Regions from separate parts of the Homo sapiens genome. Here region 2 is linked to region 1. The links come from fine-mapping of genetic effects on gene expression. Tissue or cell type: whole blood. Region 1 holds a variant in brackets; the other region holds the start of a gene. All regions are shown on one strand. Distances are from middle to middle.

Region 1 (8,103 bases):
TGCAAAACAGTAAGCGTGAGCTGGTTTCCTGTGGCAAAAAAATGACTTTGATTTGTTCTTTTTGAGGTTACTGTGAGTTTATCATAACAGGAGTGCTAAAAATACCGAGTCTGGTATGGAAACAGCATTCACTTACCAGCATGAACAATAACATACAGGTTTAGCCTAGAGCAGGAAGAAATGGACTTCATCTCAAGATGAGAATACTTATCAGAGAATTCTTGGCAATCTTAACTTGCTCAGTCTCTGTTCTGATGAGTTATGGAAAAGTACTTAGACCATCTTTGAGCCACAGAATTGAAGCTGAAAATATTCTTAGACCAAACATTTTGTGAGCACCTGCTATGTACCAGATCTCATAGCTGGGACTAATCAGAGGAAGAGGAATAGAATAAGTGTTCTTGCCAATGTGAAAGACAAACAAATAATTCTACTCCTTGTGAGGACAGCTATAACAGAGGGCTATAGAAACTATCATGTGTTGTTCCTGGTTTTTGTTTGTTTTTTTTCCCCCCCAAAACAGGGTCTTGCTCTGCTTTCCAGGCTGGAGTGTGGTGGCACAATCATAACTCACTATAGCCTTGAACTCCTGGGCTCAAGTTATCCTCTCACCTCGACCTGCAAAGTAGCTGGGACTACAGGCGTGTGCCACCATGTCCAGCTATTTTAAAAAATCTGTTTGTACAGATTGGGGCAGGGAGGTCTTGCTATGTTGCCCAGGCTGGCCTTGAACTCCTGGCCTCAAGAAATCCTCTCACCTCAGTTTCCCAAAGAGGGACTATAGGAAAGCACCACCCTGCCTGGCTCGTTGTTCTGTTTTTAAATACATTTGCATTATTCCATAATAATCAAAGTAATTTATTATGGGAACTTAGGAAACTGAAGGTCTGACCATCTTTGGGGAGTTGTGAAGTCTTGACAGAGGAGGGGAGATCTGAGCTGTATTTCTCGGAACAGGTATTTGCCAGGTGGGAAAGAGGGAAGAATATTGCAGAGCAACACATGCACAGGGCCAGCAGGATAGAGGCTGAGCCTCGGAGGGGACTGGAGCTTGGAGAGAGCAGGCTAGTGGTTTCCCTATTGATAGAATATCAGAATCTGGCCAGGCGCGGTGGCTCACGCCTGTAATCCCAGCACTTTGAGAGACTGAGGTGGGCAGATCATGAGGTCAAGAGATCGAGACCATCCTGGCCAACATAGTGAAACCCCATCTCTACTAAAAATACAAAAATTAGCTGGGCATGGTGGTGTGCGCCTGTAGTCCCAGCTACTCGGGAGGGGGAGGCAGGAGAATCGCTTGAAAACCTGGAAGGCAGAGGTTGCAGTGAGCTGAGGTCGCGCCACTGCACTCCAGCCTGACGACAGGGCAAGACTCCATCTCCAAAAAAAAAAAAGAAATCTATCTATCTATCAGTCAGAATCACTGAGGAAACCGTTGAAAAATGCGGAGTGCCTGCTTGTAGCTCACATTACTGAATCCAGATAGCTAGGAGTGACTTGCATGTCTGCATTTTTCTATAGCACCCAGGTTTCTCAAATCAGCCAAGTTAGGGGAAAGTACTGTCATAGGAAAGGGAAGCCCATTTCCCAGGTCAAAGCCTTTGCTTACTCGTTTATGTTTATTTTATTTTTGAGACAGAGTCTAGCTTTGTTGCCCAGGCTGGAGTTGCAGGTGCAATCTCAGCTCATTGCAACCTCCGCCTTTTGGATTCGTGCAATTCTCCTGCCTCAGCCTCCAAGTAGTGGGGATCACAGGCACACGCCACCATGCCTGGCTAATTTTTGTATTTTTAGTGGAGACAGGGTTTCGCCATGTTGGCCAGGCTGGTCTCGAACTCTTGACCTCAAGTGATCCATGCACCTCGGCCTTCCAGGTGCTGAGTTTATAGGCATGAGCCATCGTGCATAGCCTGCGTTTTTCTTTTAAAATGTGTTAAGCACTGTATTTCAAATTACATTTGTGCACTGAAGCAGGGAGGAAAAAGGAGCTAACCCAAGTAGCTGTTCAATATAGTATTTTGACTGCATACCCTCAAAGTAAAGAAAAATCTCACCTGGCGCGGTGGCTTATGCCTGTAATCCCAGCACTTTGGGAGGCTGAGGTGGGTGGCTCACAGGGTCAGGAGATCGAGACCATCCTGGCTGACACGGTGAAACCTCGTCTCTACTAAAAATACAAAAATTAGCCGGGCGTGGTGGCGGGCGTCTGTAGTCTCAGCTACTTGGGAGGCTGAGGCAGGAGAATGGTGTGAACCCGGGAGGCAGAGCTTGCAGTGAGCCGAGATCTCACCACTGCACTCCAGCATGGGCGACAGAACAAGGCTCTGTCTCCAAAAAAAAAAAAAAAAGAAAGAAAAATCTCTAGCCGGTCGCGATGGCTCACGCCTGTAATCCTAGCACTTTGGGAGGCTGAAGCAGGTGGATTGCCTGAGCTCAGAAGTTTGAGACCAGCCTGGGCAACATGGTGAAACCCTGTCTCTACTAAAGTACAAAAAAATTAGCCAGACATGGTGGCACACTCCTATAATCCTAGCTACTTGGGAGGCTGAGGCAGGAGAATTGCTTGAACCCTGGAGGCAGAGGTTGCAGTGAGCCGAGGTTGCTCCATTGCACTCCAGCCTGGGTGACAGAGCATCTTAAGAAAAAAAAAAAAAGAAAAACTCTAAATAAATATTGAACTCTGCTTAGTAGGGATTTTGTTTTCAGATGAGGTCTTGCTCTGTACCCCAGGCTGGAGTGCAGTGTCACGATCATAACTTACTGCAGCTTCTCCCTCCCAGCTCAAGCAATCCTCACATCACAGCCTCCCAAGTAGCTGGGATTATAGGCAAGTAGCAGGGATTACAGGCATGCAATACCACACCCAGCTGATTTTGGTATTATTTGTAGAGACGGGGTTTCACTGTGTTGCCCAGGGTAGTCTCTGTCTCCTGGGCTGAAGTGAGCCTCCTGCCCAAAGTGTTGGGATTACAGGTGTGAGCCACTTTGCCTGGCCTAGTAGGTTTGTTTTTCACAGTGATAGGGGTTAGCAATTCTGAAACTACTTACTGTTCTTCTAAGATTGAGCAGATAGGTAAGTATAGTGTTAATAGTGAGAATCAAGTTTTCTTATTGTCAGAAAAGGGTGTTCCTATGAATGTGGACAGTGGGAAAGGCTAGAAGGAGCCATGTGGTATTGGATTGGAATTGAAGTTATCTGGATGAACTCATGGTTTCTTATACGTAGATGTAGTAATAGATGTATGTGTGTATGCATATCCACTTTTACACGTGTTTATTTCCTAGAATTGTTTCCTAGAATTGTTGAGAGGGTTTATGCCCAGAGACATCCCAGAAGCACTGAACGCACTCATGCCAAGATGTTAATACCTTTCCTCACTAAAGAGAAACCAGGGTTCCTTGGAGAAATGGCTGTTTCCAGATCTGGGGTAGGAAAATTACAGGTGAGCTTGGAATATCCTGCTATGCCAGAAAGTAAGGAAGTGCTCTAAGAATGATAGGGGCATGTCAAAAGAACAAGAAGAATAATCAATTAATGTAAACAAGGAATTATGAAGATAACAAAGTCTATCTTTGACTATCACCATAGTAGTAACAATTGTTTCAATCAAGAATCAAAGTGCTAAAATCAATGGGGAACAGTTTGCGGTGAAACAGTGTAGATGTTTCCTTATCAGATGCTTTTATGCTATGCCTGGTGGCTCACCCCTATAAATCCCAAGAGGCTGAGGCAAATTGATCACTTGCACCCAGGAGTTTTGAGACCAGCCTGGGCAACAAAACGAGACCCCATCTCTACAAAAAATAAAAAAGTTAGCCAGATACAGTGGTGCATGCATGTAGTCCTAGCTACTCAGGAGGATGAGATGGGAGGATCGGTTGAGCGCAGGAGGTCGAAGCTGCAGTGAGTTGTGATTGCACCACTGCACTCCAGCCTGGGAGCAAGACTTTGTCTCCCCCGAAAAAGAAGATGCTTTTAAATGAATTACATAGAGAGACATTGGAGAACCCTGGCAGGTTGTACCTCAGCTGAGTGATGAAATTAACAATCTAGGGATGGACAGTTAGACCTCATGCCTCTTGGAATATGTAACCCTGGGTTGGATCTGAGAATAGAGGAAGGTTTTTTTTCTTTTGCTCTAAAGGATGTTAGTGGAACAATTGGTAAAAAGAGGCCCCGGCGTGGTGGCTCACGCCTATAATCCCAGCACTTTGGGAAGCCGAGGCAGGTGGATCACCTGAGGTCGGGAGTTCGAGACCAGCCTGCCCAACATGGAGAAACCCC[A/G]TCTCTACTAAAAATACAAAATTAGCCAGGCGTGGTGGTGCATGCCTGTAATCCCAGCTACTTGGGAAGCTGAGGCAGGAGAATCGCTTGAACCCAGGAGGCGGAGGTTGTGGTGAGCCGAGATCGCGCCATTGCACTCCAGCTTGGGCAACAAGAGCGAAACTCTATCTCAAAATAGTAATAATAATAATAAAATAAAAAACAAATAAAAAGGTCTGTAGGTTAGATAGCAGTACTGTTTCCATGTTATTTATTTTTACAGTTATGATAATTGTCTCATGGTTATTTAAGAGAATGGTTTTTGTTTTGTTTTTCTTGTTTTTTCTTTTCCTTTTTTTTTTTTTTTTTTTTGAGATGGAGTCTCACTCTGTCGCCCATGCTGGAGTGCAGTGGCATCATCTCGGCTCACTGCAAGCTCCACCTCATAGGTTTACGCCATTCTCCTGCCTCCCCCTCCCAGGTAGCTGGGACTACAGGTGCCCGCCACCACACCTGGCTAATTTTTGTATTTTTGGTAGAGATGGGGTTTCGCCATGTTAGCCAGGCTGGTCTCGAACTCCTAGCCTCAGGTGATCCTCCCACCTCAGCCTCCTGAAGTGCTGGGATTATAAGTGTGAGCCAGTGCACCTGGCCTCTTTTTTTTTTTTTTTTTTTTTAATTTTACAGAATTTTTTTTTTTTTTAAGACAGAGTCTTGCTCTAAGGCTGTAGTGCAGTGGTATGATCACAGCTTGCTGCAGCCTCAGCCTCCTGGACTCAAGCGATCCTCCCACATCACCCTTCTGAGTAGGTGGGATTATTGTAGGCTAAATTTTTAATTTTATTGTAGAGAGGCCTCACTCCATGGCCTAGGCTGGTCTTGAACTCCTGGGCTCAAGTGATCCTCCCACTTCTGCCTCCCAAAGCATTGGGATAACAGACGTGAGCCACTGCACCCAGCCTGTTAGATAATTTAGAAAATTTTCTTTCCTCATTCTTCAATTTCCCCTCATTCACACTCCCAACTTTCCTGTTTTGTGATTTTTAAATGACGTTGTCTTTGGATGCCGGCTGGATTTGGTGATTAGTTCTCTTCAGAAGAAACTTCTTATTTTAGAACTTGTAACCTTTGCAAAGCAGGCCATAGGCAGCCATCGCTATTTGGGTATGACATTCCCCAGTGGGTTTTTGGTGTCCAGTAATGACAAAAACTGCTGAGAAAGAGACAGCCACAGGGAAATGGGTTCCGATAATGGGGCAGCAGCTGAGTGCTTGTTGATTTGCTGCTGTCATGACCACAGATGTTTAAAAATAATTTGTAAGGAAAAAGAAAAAAGCGTAGTGTGTGTGTGTGTGTGTGTGTGTGTGTGTGTGCGCGCACGCACGCGCGCGCGCACACCACTGCCTTATCAGTGGTAGAGAATGCAGACCACAGTCATTCAGAAAGGAAGAAGGCACCACCATGGAAACAGGAGAGGTGAGGAGAAGGGCAGAGGTGACCCACAAATGCGGCTCAGTGCCTTACAGCAGAGAGCTCATGAGAGAACAGAACTGGTTAGTCACCGACTCTGCTCCTCGGTCTGCAAGAGAGGTTCAGCACCAAGTCTATACTACACAGTACTGGAAGGATTAGATGAAGGCCTGGCACACATTGTGAATTAATAGTTACTGGTTACAGGCGGGGTGTGGTGGCTCAGGCTTGTAATCCCAGCCCTTTGGGAGGCCAAAGTGGGAGGATTGCTTGAGGCCAATAGTCCAAGACCAACATGGGCAACATAGCAACACCCTGTCTCTTTTTTTGACTGTTTTTTTGAAACAGTCTCGTTCTGTCAGCCAGGCTGGAGTGCAGTGGCACAATCTTGGCTCACTGCAACCTCTGCCTCCCAGGTTCAAGCAATTCTCCTGCCTCTGCCTCCCGAGTAGCTGGGATTACAGGTGCCTACCACCACGTCCGGCTAATTTTTGTATTTTTAGTGGAGATGGGCTTTCACCATGTTGGCCAGGCTGGTCTCAAACTCTTGACCTCAGGTGATCCACCCACCTTGGCCTCCCAAAGTGCTGGGATTACAGGCGTGAGCCACTGTGCCTGACCGGTTCACGTACTTTACATGCATTGTGATCATATTAAATCTTCATGACAGCCTTACTAGATCAGGTCTTGTCCTGTTTTCACATGAGGAAATTGAATCTTGGAAGGGCTAAGTCATTTGTCCAGGGTCATCACACGCAGTAAGTGTTAGAGTCTAAACGAGCCAGAGCTGTCACACTGTCATCCCCAGGGCCTTGTGTTTAAGCATCGCCCAACAAAGTGCTCAGTCAGACTTTAATTATTAGCATTACTAATAATACCATTATGATGATTATTTTGTCTAAACTTCACAGGCACCTCGTGACATTTTCTTATTCCACTTTTGCAGATGGGAAACTGAGGCCCACCAAGATCAGATTACAATAATGGGCAACATTGTCAGCAACCTGCCTTGCTTTTTTTCTTAGCAGGCCCACATCTCCCCCACTCCCCCACCCACTTGGCAGTAGCCTGTGTTTGAGCTGCTCACAGGCCCCAAGGCCCAGCTGCAATTCTTGTTTAAAGCCTCACATCTTTTCTCTGACTGTCAGACAACAGTCACGGGAATGTCCTGTGCCATCTTCCCTCGGCAAGAGGGGTTGGCAGAGAGCAGCAGATGCCTAGAGTCAAGGTCATGTGCTGCTCAAGTGCTGGGCTGGAGACAAGACCCTCTCTCCCTGCTGCTTGTGACCAGGCAGGGTGGCTCTGAATGTAGAGGGCTCTGTCAGAACAGTTCTGTGACCAGAGGGTGTGGTTGGCAAAGCAATGCATTAGGGGCCCATGGAAGTTTATTCTTGTTGTCCACATTATTTCCCTGTGACTTTTAGATTTTTTTTTCCTTTTTGTAAATTAGTTTTTTCATACTAGTTAGAATGTTTCACCTTAAAGGTGAGAGTCAAGCTCTGGAATCGCCTGACATTTTTAAGGAAAGGAATAGAATATTGGGCTGGGGCTAGTCTGAAATGGTGGTTTGTATTATTTTAAATTGATGGGCTCTGGGTTAGGGGAGCCAAATCCATTTTAAAGTGATTTTTGTAAAAATTGGCATGTCTTCTGTTTCTTCTCTTTTCCAAAGGTGACACTATAACGTAGAGGTTAAGAATGTGGTGACTTTTAAATCCGTCGTGACCATAAGCCTCTCCTAAGCCCCAGTTTTCCTACCACTAAAATGGGGGTGGTAACAGTTGTACCTACCTCATTCTGTCTTTTTTGTTTTTTGCTTGTTTGTTTGTTTTTTAGATGGAGTCTTGCTCTTGTCGCCCAGGCTGGAGTGCAATGGTGTGATTTTGGCTCATTGCAACCTCCACCTCCTGGGTTCAAGCGATTCTCCTGCCTCAACTTCCCGAGTAGCTGGGATGACAGGCACCCGCCACCATGCCCATTTAGTTTTTGTATTTTTAGTAGAGATGGGGTTTCACCACGTTGGCCAGGCTACTCTTGAACTCCTGACCTCAGGTGATCCACCCACCTCAGCCTCCCAAAGTGCTGGGATTACAGGCGTGAGCCACCACTGCCGGCCTCGTTCTGTCGTATTTTTTTACGTAGGAGAGCTCAGTCTGAATGTAGGATATGACATGGTTGTGGGGTTTTTTTTGTTTTTGTTTTGTTTTTGTTTTGTTTTGTTTTGTTTTGTTTTGTTTTGTTTTGTTTTTGAGACAGTCTCACTCTGTCCCCCAGGCTGGAGTGCAGTGGTGTGATAGCTCACTGAAACCTCTACCTCCCAAGTTCAAGCGATTCTCCTGCCTCAGCCCCCAAGTAGCTGGAATTACAGG
Region 2 (8,091 bases), 50 kb after region 1:
GTCACCTGTCTGGCCAGCTACGTCCCCACGGCCCTTGTCAGTGTGGAAGGTAGACGGCCAGAGAGGTGACCCCGGGGGTGGTCAGGCTTAACGACCTCTATTTTCCAAAGGGGCCACATTTTGCCTTTTCCATGTGACAGGCAGGGAAACTGAGGCCCGCCCTTAGGGAGTATCCCAAGGTCACACAGGGATACAGTGACTGACCCCACCCAGATCACAAGCCTCAGGTCTCCTGCCCTCTCGTGTCCAACCACAGGGAAGCCACACCTCCGGATGTGGCAGAGGCCTAGAGACCAGAAGGCCAGAGACTGTGGCAGCTTCAGAGCGCGGGCCTGGGGGGCTGGGACGCGGGAGATGCCTTCCTGCCCCCCCCCCCCCCCCACTTCTGAGCGCCCTAGGAGGCTCCTGCCCTCCCGTCCCACCAGGTCCTGGCCTGAGGGTTCCCTAAGGCCTACAGCCAGGGCCTCAGTTTCCACATCTGTGACCTTGGCCTTGAAATCGGTGTCCCCTTCCAGGGCTTCCAGGAACTGAGTTAGGGAAGTTTTCTCTTTCCTCGCTCCCCTTGGGCTGCCGGGACAAGATGGGGGATGGGAAACCAGGACACACTTTCCCTAGAGCGCCTGCCGGCAGGGATGGGGCTCCACGGGCACCACAGGGTTAACAGCCCATCAGGCAGGGGACCTTTAACCCTTCCCTCCCCAAGACTCCCCCACCTCCCCGAGGGGACTTCCCAACACAATGGCCCCTCCCCCTCTCCTTCCTCCGCCGGGACTGCTGAGGACAGCCCCTGGCCAAAGAGATGCAAATAAAAGCAAAAGGCCTCTCGACCCCTCCCCAGAGGCCAGAGTTGACAGTCCTCCCGCTCGGCCCACTCTCCCTGCAACAGGAATCCTCCAGGGGGTCTAGAGGACCCAGACTGGGGGAGGGGAGCTGGGATGCAGCTGTTGCCCCAGGCCCGGAAGAGACAGTGGGCTGCAATTCGGGGACTGCAGTCAGATTCCAGGAGGGACTTCCCACTTGACCTCCCCCTCCACCCCCAGCCTCCGTCTTCCTGCTTCTTGCAACACAAAGACCACATTGGCCACACCCTCCCAGTGGCCCGGCTGGGCCCGCCACCTCCCCCCGTCCTCTCCCACTTCTCCAGTTCCTCCGAGTCTCCAGCCCTCTCTCTTCCCGGCTCCTATCACCCCGGGGGCGGGGCGGGCACTCACCGTCCGGGCGCGGGCCTCGGGGCCGGCTGCGGGGACCCCCAGGCCAGCGGGAACCCCCCAGGGCGGCGGTGACGGCGGGTGGGGCGGTGGGGGCGCAGAGGTAGGCAGCGGGCAGCAGGGTGGGGGCGGCGGGGGCGGCAGCCAGGCCGGGCTCGCAGAGGCCGCAGGACACTGCCGAGGGCACCAGGCGGCCGAGCGGGAAGGGGCGCGGGCCGTCGCGGGCCAGGCCCTCTACGGGCTCCGGGGAGCTGCCCTCCTGGCGTGCGCGGGCCATGGCGCTCCCTGGGGCCTGCGGGACACGGGAGGAGGAGCAGGTCAGCAGGGAAGTACCAGGGCCCACTGTACCTCCAGCCTACCCGGGGTTAGGACCCAGATGGAGAAGAGTGGAGGTGTGTGTGCATGCGGAGGGGGTGACGGCCCCACAGAGACACGCCCAGCCGGGGGATGACACCACCGGGTCCTGGCTGGCCTGGAGAGCCTCCCGTGCATACGGTGATGGGCACACAGGAGGGACAGGGGGCACAGGACGGCTCTCACAGCAAGGACAGGGCTCACACAGGACGGATGGAGGGGTCTAGCAGGTGTGTGTATGAGGGCTGTGACAGTCCCACAACACAAACTCACTCCACTTGGGACTCACAGCATGGGCTGGTGGGGACAACTTTCCCAACACAGCGACGGGCACACAGGGAGGGCAGTGAGGCACAGCGAGGCCCCCACAGCACACACACAAGGACTCACACGGGACTGGCCAGCCTGACCGCCCACCCCACCTCCCACTTGCACACAAACACTGAGATGGCCCCAGTCTCGGACATCACTACTCAGTACACACAATACACACACACCCCCGACCAAAGCAGGAGCATCCAGACAGACCATCACAAGCACTCTACATACTGCGCACACTGGCTGGCACAATCCATCCCCACACATCCAAACTGTCAAAGTCTCACACACTGACCCACTGTTGATATGCCCAGGGGCACATGCAAACACAATGCAGCCTTTGCAAACACAAACACACACACACAAGCTAGGCACTGCCTCAGTTCCCAAACATGCCCCTCTCCACACACACACACTCACTCCAGAGATAAGACCTGCACACCTCTGGACTCACATATCAACACAAAACAGACACCCACGGACACACATACATCAACACCCCCAAAACACACCCACATGTCACCAACTCTCAGGACACACGTAGATCAGGCACACACAGACACATGCCATCAGACCTCAACACACCACCAGACACCAACCCACCCTCCTCACGCAACCCTCAAACATCATCACCAACTGTCAGCAACACACACACACACACACCCTACAGCTAACTCTAATCCCACACAGCCCAGCAGCACACACACCTAGCGCACCCACAGAAAACACTGGTCTCACGTGACTGACATAAACACTACACACACGCAGCCCACATGACACACATGAGCCAGCCGATCACAGTGACAAGCCCCTCAGACCCAACACACACACACACACACAGGCTCAGACACAACCCCATCCAGAGGCTGCCAGCAACACCCACCGTCTACACTGCATAGACCCCACAGATCCTGGGTCCTCAAATCCCAGACGCTGATGCCAGACACACAAGCCAAACCCAGACTGAAACAACCCCCCACCACACACATACATACACACACACACTCACACCTGACAACTCACACAGACACCTGGACAGAAAACAGACATTTGCATTTAGCAGGCGCAGCATCACAAACGCTGGGCAAAAGACACATGCCCCGGAGATACAGAGACGGCCTCAGCCAAGACAGAAACACACAGGCAAGACACAAGCACACATATCGCACGCTCGGGCAAGACACACACATAAACACACAAACAGCTCACTCCAGCAACACACACACACTACAACCTCCACACCCCAGCACACGCAGGCACCACAGACCCCCAGTATCATCCCGGAACAGCACACACAGACAACTCTCACCGACAACACACGCAGGTCCACCCACCCCACAAGCAGGGCACCCACAGACAGAACCCCACACAAACAGGCGCGGGGACTCACGCAGACACCCCGACGGGTCAGAAACCCCAACATTCCTCTGGATCGACACCACCACTCCCTGCAGAACCCAGCACAAACTCGGAGCCAGACACGCGCACACACCCAGGCGAGACACCTGCAGATCCACAACCCCGCACACGCGCGCTCCCACGGCGGTCCCAGACACCCCCCTCCGCTGTCACAGCCCCCCCCACCGCCGCCACGTGCGCCCGCCCCGCCCGCCAGGCGAGCGCGGGGCCAATAACCGGCTGTTGCTGGGGCGCAGCCCCCGCCCGCAGGAGCCGCAGACTCCACGGCCCGCGAGCCGCCCCCCGTCGCCGCCCCCAGCGGGCGCGCGCCCTGGGTGTGGCCGCCCCTCCGTGCCGCCCCCCCGCCCCTCCCGGACTTTGGGGGCTGGGGCACCCCTGGGGTCGACCCTCTTCCCCGGGGCCGCACTGGCCGCCAGGGGGCGCTGCCGAGCCCGCACCCCATTGTTTGTAAACAAACCCGCCAGACCGCCGAGGCACCTGTGCGCCCAGACCGGCGCCCCAACGCCGAGCCGCCTCTCACCCGGCGACCCTGGCCCAGGGTCCCTCGCGGGGTTTGGAGAGGCGCGGTGTGGGGAGGCAGGGCGCCCACACTGCTCTCCGCCTGCACTCCTGTCACCTCCTCCAGGGAGTCCACCCGGCCTGGCCGATCGCCGCCGGAGAGGATTCGGGGCGCGCACACTCACCCCGGGGGCATGAACACGCCGGAGGGGGCGGCGGTGGGGGGCGGGCGGCTTCCTTCAGGAGGGCGCGCCCGCCGAGCGCCGCTCTCCGCGGCGGCTGCTGCTGTGGCTGTCGCTGCTGCTGCCGCTCTAACTGCAGTGGCGGCTGCTGTGGCTGTGGCTGCTGCTGCTCCCCGGGCCGCAGGCGCGTCCGCGTCGTGGCCGCTGCTGGGATCGCTGGTGCCGCCGCCGCCGCCGCCAGGCGCCCGCTCGCATGTGGCTCGCGCCGCGTCTCAGGCCGCCCGGCGGATCCCGGGCCCGCTCCAAAGCCGCCCCGCCCCGCCCCGCCCCGCCCCCGCCCGGCGGGTCCCACGCCCCGCCCCCGCGTGACGCTACGGCCCCGCCCGCCCGCCGCGGACAAGTCAGGACTTGCAGGCGCGCGCCGCGCCCCCCCCTACCTCCGCGCCGGGGGTTTCCCTGCAGCGGGGGACGGGGCAGGGCCTAGCCCAAGGCAAGGAGGACCCAGGCGCTGTGCGGCGGGGTGTGGGGAGATCGCCCAGACACCGGGACAGTCGGACACACACACTGACTGGGACCCACAGATCCACACCCCCAGCGATGCGTACACAGACCGACCGACGGGCGTTCCAGGGTCCACAAAGTCACGTGCAGGCAGAGCCCAGAGGATGTACTCACAGACACAAGGCCACAGTCTCGCAAATCCACACCATGGACAGGGGCATGAGCACACACACTCACATACTGATGGGGCTCACACTTACACACACCCAGACGGAAATGCACAGACTCACTAACAGGGTCCCCTGGACAAGCAGACGGACACAATGACAGGGCCACACACAGTTGCAGAAACACCCACACTGATGATCACACCTGGGCCCACAAACTGTGTTCACAAACAACCCTACCGAACAGGCACCCACACCACACACACGGTGGTGCAACCACACAGACATAGGCGGAGTGCTTATCAGGAAACACAAACTTGCTGATAGGCACAGGGGACACACACATACACACAGACACCTGTTACAGGGATACCTGGATACACGGCCAAATCCAAATCACACTCCCACAGGGACATACACAAATGCACTCACACAATTTCACAGCTAACACATTAAAACTATCAGAAAGTGACATTCGCCCGACACGGTGGCTCATGCCTGTAATCCCAGCACTTTGGGAGGCCAAGGTGCGTGGACTGCCTGAGGTCAGGAATTCGAGACCAGCCTGACCAACATGATGAAACCCCATCTCTACTAAAAATACAAAATTAGCCGGGCGTTGTGGCGCATGCCTGTAATCCCAGCTACTTGGGAGGCTGAGGCAGGAGAACTGCTTGAACCCGGGAGGCGGAGGTTGCAGTGAGCCGAGATAGTGCCATTGCACTCTAGCCTGGGCAACAAGAGCAAACTCCGTCTTAAAAATAAAAATAAAGGAAAGAAACTGACATTCAGAGACACAAACCAAATCAGACATAGAAGAAACTGACCACCCACACATGTCACAAAGTCACACCTGTGACAGCTTCTTGCTAACTGGCCCACTGCACACACGTCGGAGCATGCACACCTGGCCACACTCACCACAAATCTGGCAGGGGACCCACGTCGTGGAAGCAGCCCTGGGCACCTGGCATGGACATGCCTGGGCAGACCCCATGCCAAATTTCATCCTGTCTCATAGCTTTCCATTCCGTTTCTTTTTCAGTTTCTCATTGTTACTTCCTGCCCTGCTCTGGTTTGGTGAGTTTTGTCCTTCCTTTTTCCAAAGCCGTGGATTCCTGTCTCCTCTACACTTTCCATCCTTACTGGGTCTCACCCAATCGCAATCGCCTCACCAGAGTGACTCACCTTCCAGTGCCTAGTGTGGGGCTGGCTGAGTAAGGATGTCAGACTTCTCAAACTTGACTGCCTCCAAGTACACACTCTTAGCTCCCCCAAGAGATGCAGGTAATCTATATCTCACGTGAAATCTCCCCATTTGCAACATTGGGAACTCCTCAGCTTTCCTCCCTCTTTCACTTTCCCTCCTCTTTCGCTTTCCCCGATTATTCATTGTCCCTTCCTTCTTCCTGGTGTTTTCCAAACTGTGGGTCATGAGTAAACCATGGATTATGACATATGACATCACTTACATGGATCTTACTTTTTTTTTTTTTTTTGAGACAGAGTCTCGCGCTGTCGCCCAGGCTGGAGTTCAGTGGCATGATCTCGGCTCATTGCCACCTCCGCCTCCTGGGTTCAAGCAAGTCTTCTGCCTCAGCCTCCCTAGTAGCTGGGACTACAGGTGTGCGCCACTATGCCCAGCTAATTTTTGTATTATTGGTAGAGATGCGGTTTCACCATATTGGCCAGGCTGGTCTCAAACTCCTGACCTCGGGATCCGCCTGTCTTGGCCTCCCAAAGTGCTGGGATTACAGGTGTGAGCCACTGCACTCAGCTTTTTTTTTTTTTTTTTTTTGAGACGGAATGTCACTCTGTTGCCCAGACTGGAGTGCAGTGGCACGATCTCAGCAAACTGCAAGCTCCGCCTCCCAGGTTCAGGCCTTTCTGCCTCAGCCTCCCCAGTAGCAGGGAGTACAGGCGTCTGCCACCACACCCGGCTAATTTTTTGTATTTTTTAGTAGAGACAGTGTTTCACCATGTTAGCCAGGATGGTCTCGATCTCCTGACCTCGTGATCTGCCCTCCTCGGCCTCCCAAAGTGCTGGGATTATGGCGTGAGCCACTGCACCTGGCCCAGCCTTTTTTTTTTTTAGATAAAAGATTCACTCTGTCGCCCAGATTGGAGTGTAGTGGCACAATGGATAGCCTTGTGGTACAATAGCCTTGCAGCTTCAAACTCCTGGGCTCCAGAGATCCTCCTGCCTCAGCCTCCCAAGTAACTGGGACTACAGGTGTAAACCACCACGCCCAGCTAATTTTTATTTTTTTGTAGAGATGGGCGGTCTCGCTATGTTGCCCAGTCTGGTCTTGACCTTATGGGCTCAAGCAAACCTCCTGCCTCCGCCTCCCTCAGTGCTGGGATTACAGGTGTGAACCACCATGCCCGGCTGACTTAATGCATTTTACTCAGTAAGATGCATTCACATCCCAACCAACTTGCGCTTTACTGAGATGTATTTAGACACAAGAATATTCACTCTTTTTAGGTGTATGGTGTGTAAGTGGTGATAAAAGTACACAATTTTGTATTACCACAACTTCTACCTGCAATTTTACTGACCTAGACAAGAGGTTTTGTTGTTGTTTTAATTGAGACAGATTCTGGCTGTGTTACCCAGGCTGGTTTCAAACTCCTGCGCTCAAGCGATCCTCCCACCTCAGCCTCCCTAGTAGCTGGGATTATAGGTGTGCATGACTGCTTTGACCAGAGTTAAAAAAAAATACACCACAGGCCGGGCATGGTGGCTCACACCTGTAATCCTAGCACTTTGGGAGGCCGGGGGACGTGGATCACCTGAGGTCAGGAGTTTGAGACTAGCCTGGCCATCATGGTAAAACCCCATCTCTACTAAAAATACAGAAATTAGCTGGGCATGGTGGTGGGTGCCTGTAATCCCAGCTACTCGGGAGCTTGAGGCAGAAGAATTGCTTGAACCCAAGGGAAGGAGGTTTCGGTGAGCCGAGATCGCGCCATTCCATTCCAGCCTGGGCGACAAGGGCAAAACTCCGTCTCAAAACGCCAACAACAAAAATACACTACAGGCTGGGCACGGTGGCTCATGCCTGTAATCCTAACACTTTGAGAGGCCGAGGCGAGTGGATCACTTAAGGTCCGGAGTTCGACACCAGCCTGGCCAACAGGGTGAAGCCCCGTCTTTACCAAAAATATAAAAGTTAGCCAAAAATTGGTGGCGCACACCTGTAGTCCCAGCTACTCGGGAGGCTGAGACGGGAGAATCACTTGAACTCAGGAGGCAGAGGTTGCAATGAGCAGATATCGTGCCACTGCACTCCAAACAGGGCAACGGAGCAAGACTCTGTCAAAAAAAAAAACACACTACAAAATACAATTTTGAGGCCGGGCATAGGGGCTCACGCCTGTAATCCTAGCACTTTGGGAGGTCGAGGTGGGTGGATCACCTAAGGTCAGGAGTTCGAGACC

The links. PIP is the estimated chance that this variant, and not a neighbour inherited with it, causes the effect.
Region 2: BBC3 starts here. The variant in region 1 is fine-mapped to the expression of BBC3 in whole blood (TOPMed, PIP above 0.99).

Annotation. Positions count from the first base shown.
Region 1 is chr19:47,176,861-47,184,963 of GRCh38, forward strand. The region is part of intron 6 of SAE1 (SUMO1 activating enzyme subunit 1); the gene reads left to right. Among named protein-coding and RNA genes, the nearest start is that of MIR3190, 46 kb to the right of the region's middle. The variant A/G (reference allele first, on the strand shown) is at 4,286.
Region 2 is chr19:47,226,947-47,235,037 of GRCh38, forward strand. BBC3 (BCL2 binding component 3) reads right to left here and starts at 4,253. Exons shown (of 4, transcript NM_014417.5): 1 at 3,983-4,253; 2 at 1,212-1,500. The coding sequence starts at 1,485. It overlaps MIR3190 (microRNA 3190), which reads left to right; the gene lies at 1-75. It overlaps MIR3191 (microRNA 3191), which reads right to left and starts at 73; the gene lies at 1-73. RefSeq lists enhancers at 136-1,078, 4,641-4,760, 5,470-6,093, 5,520-5,789 and silencers at 1,111-1,550, 3,411-4,130, 4,271-4,500.